Homo sapiens: one gene and its partner. The protein of the gene in region 1 purifies or fractionates together with the protein of each later gene. This does not show direct contact. Each region holds a gene or a part of one and is shown on either strand. Other genes may lie near its edges. The genes, in order: BDH1 and PGM3.

The links.
Region 2: the proteins of BDH1 (region 1) and PGM3 purify together in Homo sapiens (affinity purification with mass spectrometry, with the first as the bait; one large-scale study listed by BioGRID). This does not show direct contact.

Annotation. Positions count from the first base shown.
Region 1 is NC_000003.12:197,517,692-197,521,511, forward strand, and holds part of BDH1 (D-beta-hydroxybutyrate dehydrogenase, mitochondrial precursor), read right to left. Parts: intron 1-3,820.
Region 2 is NC_000006.12:83,179,497-83,183,316, forward strand, and holds part of PGM3 (phosphoacetylglucosamine mutase), read right to left. Parts: intron 3,483-3,820; coding exon 3,349-3,482; intron 2,436-3,348; coding exon 2,240-2,435; intron 472-2,239; coding exon 314-471; intron 1-313. UniProt on the Homo sapiens protein: Catalyzes the conversion of GlcNAc-6-P into GlcNAc-1-P during the synthesis of uridine diphosphate/UDP-GlcNAc, a sugar nucleotide critical to multiple glycosylation pathways including protein N- and O-glycosylation.

The DNA of each region.
Region 1 (3,820 bases):
TCTATGGTCTCCATCCCCCCTCAGGCCAACCCCCTCATCAGTCATTTCCTGCTCTATGGTCTCCATCCCCCTTCAGGCCGACCCCCCCATCAGTCACTTCCTGCTCTATGGTCTCCATCTCCCCCTCAGGCTGACCCCCCCAATCAGTCACTTCCTGCTCTATGGTCTCCATCTCCCCCTCAGGCTGACCCCCCCCATCAGTCACTTCCTGCTCTATGGTCTCCATCTCCCCCTCAGGCTGACCCCCCCCAATCAGTCACTTCCTGCTCTATGGTCTCCATCTCCCCCTCAGGCTGACCCCCCCAATCAGTCACTTCCTGCTCTATGGTCTCCATCTCCCCCTCAGGCTGACCCCCCCCATCAGTCACTTCCTGCTCTATGGTCTCCATCTCCTCATCAGGCTGACCCCCCCCAATCAGTCACTTCCTGCTCTATGGTCTCCATCCCCCCTCAGGCCGACCGCCCCCCATCAGTCACTTCCTGCTCTATGGTCTCCATCTCCCCCTCAGGCTGACCCCCCCAATCAGTCACTTCCTGCTCTATGGTCTCCATCTCCCCCTCAGGCTGACCCCCCCCAATCAGTCACTTCCTGCTCTATGGTCTCCATCTCCCCTCAGGCCGACCCCCCCCCATCAGTCACTTCCTGCTCTATGGTCTCCATCCCCCCTCAGGCCGACCCCCCCCATCAGTCACTTCCTGCTCTATGGACTCCATCCCCCCCTCAGGCCGACCTCCCCGATCAGTCACTTCCTGCTCTATGGTCTCCATCTCCCCCTCAGGCTGACCCCCCCGATCAGTCACTTCCTGCTCTATGGTCTCCATCCCCCCCTCAGGCCGACCCCCCCGATCAGTCACTTCCTGCTCTATGGTCTCCATCTCCCCCTCAGGCTGACCCCCCCAATCAGTCACTTCCTGCTCTATGGTCTCCATCCCCCCTCAGGCCGACCCCCCCCATCAGTCACTTCCTGCTCTATGGTCTCCATCCCCCCTCAGGCTGACCCCCCCCATCAGTCACTTCCTGCTCTATGGACTCCATCCCCCCTCAGGCCGACCCCCCCCCATCAGTCACTTCCTGCTCTATGGACTCCATCCCCTCCTCAGGCCGACCCCCCCCATCAGTCACTTCCTGCTCTATGGTCTCCATCCCCTCCTCAGGCCGACCCCCCTCATCAGTCACTTCCTGCTCTATGGTCTCCATCCCCCCTCAGGCTGACCTCCCCGCCCCATCAGTCACTTCCTGCTCTATGGTCTCCATCCCCCCCTCAGTCACTTCCTGCTCTATGGTCTCCATCCCCCCTCAGGCCGACCCCCCAATCAGTCACTTCCTGCTCTATGGTCTCCATCCCCCGCTCAGGCACCCCCCATCAGTCACTTCCTGCTCTATGGTCTCCATCCCCTCCTCAGGTGGATCCCCCCATCAGTCACTTCCTGCTCTGTGGTCTCCATCCCACAGCATGGTAGGCCAGGCCTTTTCCAAGCTTCTCCCTTACTCCTCCACATATGTTCTGCTGCCTGTCAGCCTGCGAGCAGCTTGTGTTGAAATTCTTCCCATGCTCTTGTAGTGGTCTGATCCAGGCATGAGTGCTGGACGGCTCAGAGCACTCTCCCACTTCACAGATGGGCAAGCTGAGACCCACACAGGGGGCAGGTGCAAGCCCAAGATCACATTTCTAATAAGTGAAGCCCAGGTCAGGCGTGGTGGCTCAGGCCTATAATCCCAGCACTTTGGGAGTCCAAGGCAGGTGGATCACCTGAGGTCAGGAGTTTGAGACCAGCCTGGCCAACCTTGTGAAACCCCTTCTTTACTAAAAAAAAAAAAAAAATTAGCTGGGCATGGTGGCAGGCGCCTGTAATCCCAGCTCCTCGGGAGGCTGAGACAGGAGAATCACTTGAACCCGGGATGTGGAGGTTTCAGTGAGCCGAGATCGCACCATTGCACTCCAGCCTGGGCGGCAGAGTAAGACTCTGTCTCAAAAAAATTAATTAATTAATTAATTAATGTTGACTGACTGACTGGTAAGTGATGTGCCAAGATCAGGCCATGCCCACGGCCTGCTCTCGGGCCCACTGGCTCGGTGTCCCCTGGGGTGGGGACAGGGAGGGCTGGTCCCAGGCTCCAGATGTCCTGTCCCTCAGCGTCCTGCGGGGGTCGGGGCCGGTGGCAGATGGCTCTGTGGCTCTCACCAGACAATCTCCTTCATCTCGCCCCCGTGGCTGGCTCCCCGGGCTTTGGCAGCAACTGTTCCACAGAGCCAGGCTGCAGGGCGTCAAACTCGCCAACCAAATGTGCCCCCCCGGTGGAGAAGGGGAAGAGGACCCTTCTGACATGTCCTGCATGGGGTGTGGGTCGGTGGCGGCCACTGCGGGTCGGAACGCTCTGGGAGGGTGCTCCCTGGAGTTCACAGCCGGCATTGCCTGAGGGGGAATTGCCAAGGCAAGGCCAAGACATGGCAGAGTGGCAGAGTGTGGAGGGGAAGCAGGGAGAGGGAGGAGAGGGAGACGGGAAGAAAGCGAGAGCAGGAGATGGGGGACACGCCACTGCATATCTGACGGATGTACTGTTTTCTTCAGACCTAAAAGTCTTCAAATCCTTTTCCAAAAAAAAAAAATGCAGTATCGGTTAAGGAAGTTGATGGTGAGAGGTTCATCCAGCCCTCCGGAATGCCCGGCGTGGGAAAAGCAGCAGGGAAAGGTCTGCGCGTCAGGCTGGTGCTGGGGTTGGAGCCCAGATCCCCGGGCAGGGGGTGAGTGCCTCCCCTCTGTGTGGGCCGGGGCCCACCCTGCCTTGTAGGTTAGGCTGCCTGGCCAGTCCAGTACAGACAATGGAAGTGATTCTGCCCCAGAGTCAGGGGGGCAGGGGACGAGGACCGCCAGCCTGAGCAAGCCGGCCTGGTGCGTTCTCTGCTTGGGTCTCCGGTGATGACGCCTTTCCACGGGCATTTTAGATCACCACAAAACCCACGCTATAATCAAGTGGCTTTATGGTGCCGATGCAGCTGTTTTCCTGCCCAGTAGTTTATGAAGGAAAATATAGCAGCTGCCCAGGGAAGGTGGGAGGGAGGAGAATTTACCGCCAGGGAAGGGCGAAGCAGGCTGCAGGTTCTGAGCCGGTAATCACCCCAGCGGGACCCATCCTGCCTTTTCTTAATGGGCTGGCTCTGCCTGTTAATTATTAAACAGATGTTCAGCGAGAACAGAGAACAGAGAGGCCTGTGAATGGCCTGTTGGGAGGATGGGAGCGACAGTGGGCTGATGAGGTGGCACATCAGAGACAGGCAGAGGAGCGGCATCACCGACAGCCACACACGCAGCCTCTGAGGCAGCTGCTGTGACAGACAGCACATCCATCTGGCTGATACAGGCTCAGCAGAGCTCCCCGCATGGGATCTGGTCACTCCTGCCTTTTCCGCCTCCTTCCCCAGCCACTGAAGTAGCTGCTCCTGAGAGCTGCCCCACCCCATTCTGAGGGAAAGCAGAGGCCTGAATGACGCACACCCTTTCTGCCTGGGCTGTCAGGGAGCTCAAAGGTAAACTTCATAGATTCGCTTCTCCAGATGCTGCTGGGCGGCCCGGCTCCAGGGAGCTCCATCCCCCACTGCTGTATTCTACATGAATGGCACCCCGAGGTTGCAGACAGAGCTCCTCCCACAAGGCCCTCCACTGGCTGAACTGGAAGGATATTTTAGTCCTTATGCTACTGGAACTTTCTGTAGCTTTTGACCCTGTTGGCTACTGGTACTGCCCTCTCCTCCAAACTTTCTGTTGTTTAGCCTCTGGGGAACTGTATCCAACCTCTCTGACAGCTGCCTCTCCCCCTCCT
Region 2 (3,820 bases), on another chromosome or scaffold:
TAGAATTTAGGGCTTTTATGGAGTGACCACAGAACTGTCATCAAAGTTTCAATTATGATGGAAGCAAAACTTCCTAAAGCTTCAAATCACAAAACTCAGCCAGTATAAGGAGGAAAAGAGTACCTTCAGGTTCCAAAGCCAATGCCTCAAATGTTCAAATGACTGGGTATTACCACTGCTCTTTTTTTAATTTTCTGCCCACTAATGTAAAGAATTTGTCATAAATTGTGCCCTTCTGACAAATGATTGTAAAATATGGAACTATTTCACTACTAAGTCTTGTTTTAGAGGGTAGCCAATCCCCCCACCATACCTCCACCAGGAGCTCTTTAAGGAAACTGCTAATTAACGTTGCTATCTTGTCTCCATCTATGAGATGAAAGTGGCCATCTGCATCATGGTAGTAATAAACAATTCTGTCTGCATCTCCATCAAAAGAACAGCATCTTTCATTGGACTTAATTTCCATTCCTAGCACACAGGATAATTTAACATGCATTTCAGTCTAAGAATTTATTATAAAGAGTTTTAGAATTTTCTCTTAAAATTATCCACCTAAAAATCAATGTCTTAATCTTAAATAGTGTATAATCTTTAAATAGTACATAGTTTATTAGTGGTTTTTACAGGTCAAATTCTTTCACTGCAAAGTGAAAAAAGGAGCATTCAAAATCTATGCTGATATTTGCTATAATACTACCATAAAATTCCACTTTATAAGCAGGTTGGTTTGGCTAGACAGGTGTCCCATAAAGGTTTTTTGAAAGCTACATGTATTTCTGAATGTAATTTACCTAGGACCGTGATCTCCTTTACATAGAAAAAATAATCAGCACTAGATGATGTATGTGCTTTAATTCTAACAGAAATGATTTTTATTTGTTCATACCACCAATAAAAAGAAACACTGATAATTAAGAGCAAAGAATTATAACTTTGAGAGATAACTGGCCTGTGAAATTTACATAAAGTTGCTGAAATCTCAGCAATTGTCACATCAAATTTATTAGAAAATTTGGCTATTCCTTAGCCATGACAGCAGCAGAGTGACAAATTCAACATGAGACAACTAAGAAGTAAAAGGCTTTTGTCAGGAATGGGATCATAAGATTGATGAAAGGACATGATGCAAGCTTCAGGAAAGCAAGGACTATGGTTTTGTTCATACTGTAGTCCCAAAGCCTAGAGCATAGAGAGTAAGAGCTCAGTATTTAAGAAATGGATAAATAAGTGGCAGAACTGAACTGTCAAGTAAATGTCAAAACAAGCAATTCAATGAAAAGGAGCTCAAATTGGTTGACTACACTGACATTTTAAATGCTTACTAAGTAAAGCATAATAACATGAATGAATGAGGCAACTGGATGAAGTCTGTAGAGTTCCAGAATGCATGTCCTATTTTAGGGGAGCAGCATCTATCTGACTGTAGTGGACTAATGCCATGTGTGAACATTTTCTGATTTTGGTAAAGAGATGCTAGAGATTCCAATATATAAGAGAAGTCACGGAATTTTTAAACAGTGGCACACAGACAAACACACAAATGCAGCCAGCCAAACAAAACATATCTGCAAGTCAGGTTTGGCCTAAGCAAATAATTTAGGGTCTATAATGCAGATAAATCCAGAACACCTCTTACTACAACTAAAATCTGAAGAAAAGTCTTCCTCCTATTCTGCACTGAGTGGAAAACACTGATTGCTAACAACTGTATAAGCAGAGTTACATTTGCTTTCCATAGTGTATTTAATTCAGATAAGGTATCTAATAATACTTACTATGCTCCCCTGTAGATCTGTGATTCTCAAAAAGGGATCCCCAGACAAGCACTGGGAACAAAGCCTGCAAACTTGATAGAAATGCAAATTTCTATCATATGCAAATCCTATGCCAGACCTCCAGAAACTCAGAAGTGGAGCCCAGGAATCTGTGTGCTAACAAGCCCTCAAAGTGATTCTGACACATGCCAGTTTGAGAACCACTGCTCTAGAATGCCATTTCCTGACTTTGCTTTCCCCACCTGATTTCCTGTAGACTATGAGGAATGGTGTGATTTACAGGCAGAGAGAGCAGACCATGTTTCAATGGCTCTGAGAGTGGGAAGACTTCTCAATGTCTAAATGTGGCAGAGCCAGGAATAGCTGCAAGATTCTTAACTCACTTTACCACCTTAGTTTATAAGTGAGATTGGCTTCAAAGAGCATTAAAAACAAATTTTTGCAGTGCTAGTACGACATACCCTGTGGAGGTTTCTGATGACTTTTCACAAAGTCAGCTCCACATAAATGATTGAGTTTGCCCTTGGACCCATCATTAAACAGCTGAACTGACAGGCCCTGTGAGAAGTAGTGTTCCATTTCCCTTAGCTTCAGGGCCCCTATGCCATTTGCACAGTCAACCTTAAGTGATCTGTATTCATCTCCACTGCAAGAAGCCTACAAAGGAAAAAGACACATGGAAGAAAAATTTCAAGTTATAAAAATAAATGTGAAATATAAAGCATATATACATATGTGCATATGTAAATATTTAGTTAACTCATTTTAATTTTTAAATTTTATCAATTATAATTGTGTTCATTTTTCAATTTTTAAAATTATAAAACACTAAAGTAAAATTTAAAAACACCTGGAACAACAGAATAGTTTTGCTGATTGAACAACTTATAGCATAGAGCTTTATTAGAATTTAGTCTCAATTAACAGGGTCTCTTAAAAGTAATATTACAAGGGAGCCATTCAAATGCAAGAATAAGCACACAGACAAATGGGCAGTAATGACATGTCATTCTTTTTATAGTATGTGACATCATCATCAGGCAGATTTGTTTTTTTTCTAATTGTCTCCTCTCCCAGCTATCCTCACCCCAAATTATAAGTTCTATGAGAGCAAGGGCTTTTAGTTAATTGTGCCTGGTAAGGACATATACTCAATATTTGTTGATCAAACGAATTATACTTCTCAAATCTCTCTACATTTAACAAGCCAATATACCTAGAAGAAAATCTCAATAGTACATGCCTCAGGTATTAAGCCAACAGCACCTACATTAACTAAGATCAAATTCATCTGAATGAATACTTATGATACCATCGTCAAGACCCCCACCATGTTTGCTTCCCCAAAGTATCTCAGAATGTACTACATAATTTGCCAAGTAAACGCCAATGTAAGTTAGCAGGATACATAGACCAGAACCTTGTGTAGCCCTAGAGAAAAACAAAAAAGGAGATATGCAGCATCTTTGGAAAAGGAAAGAGGAGGCATGACAAACAAGATAATTTGTTCAGTAGACCATGTTACTTTATTCATTTGTTTAACTTTAACCATGTTCAATAAACTTTTCACCTGTTTGGTGAGTTCCACAAAAGCCTTAGAGAGTTTCTGGTAGTAACCTTCTATAGTTGCCTTTCCATATCGGCCACCCGTGTTTCGACAATACACCATGTAGTGCAGCTGGGGTGTTGTTAACAAGCCATAATCTGTCATAGAAATACAAAAAGCAATTCACCGCATTTCTTAACAAAGAGAAAAAAGTTTAAATGCATTCATGTGTAGGAATTTCAGGGTGACAAATCCTTTTGTGTCATCTCAGACATCTTAGAAAACATAAAAATGATCTTAAAAAGAAATATAAATGACTATAAGAAGCCAAAAAACCAATCATTACATATAAACAGGTAACAATGTAAATATAAAGCAATACAGACAAGTAATAATTGAGTTCTGTTTCCAGTAACATTGCAAACTACATAATTCAGATGAATCATCCTCCTGGAAACAACCAACATGCTAGATAAAAGACAAAAACCTCCTTTTA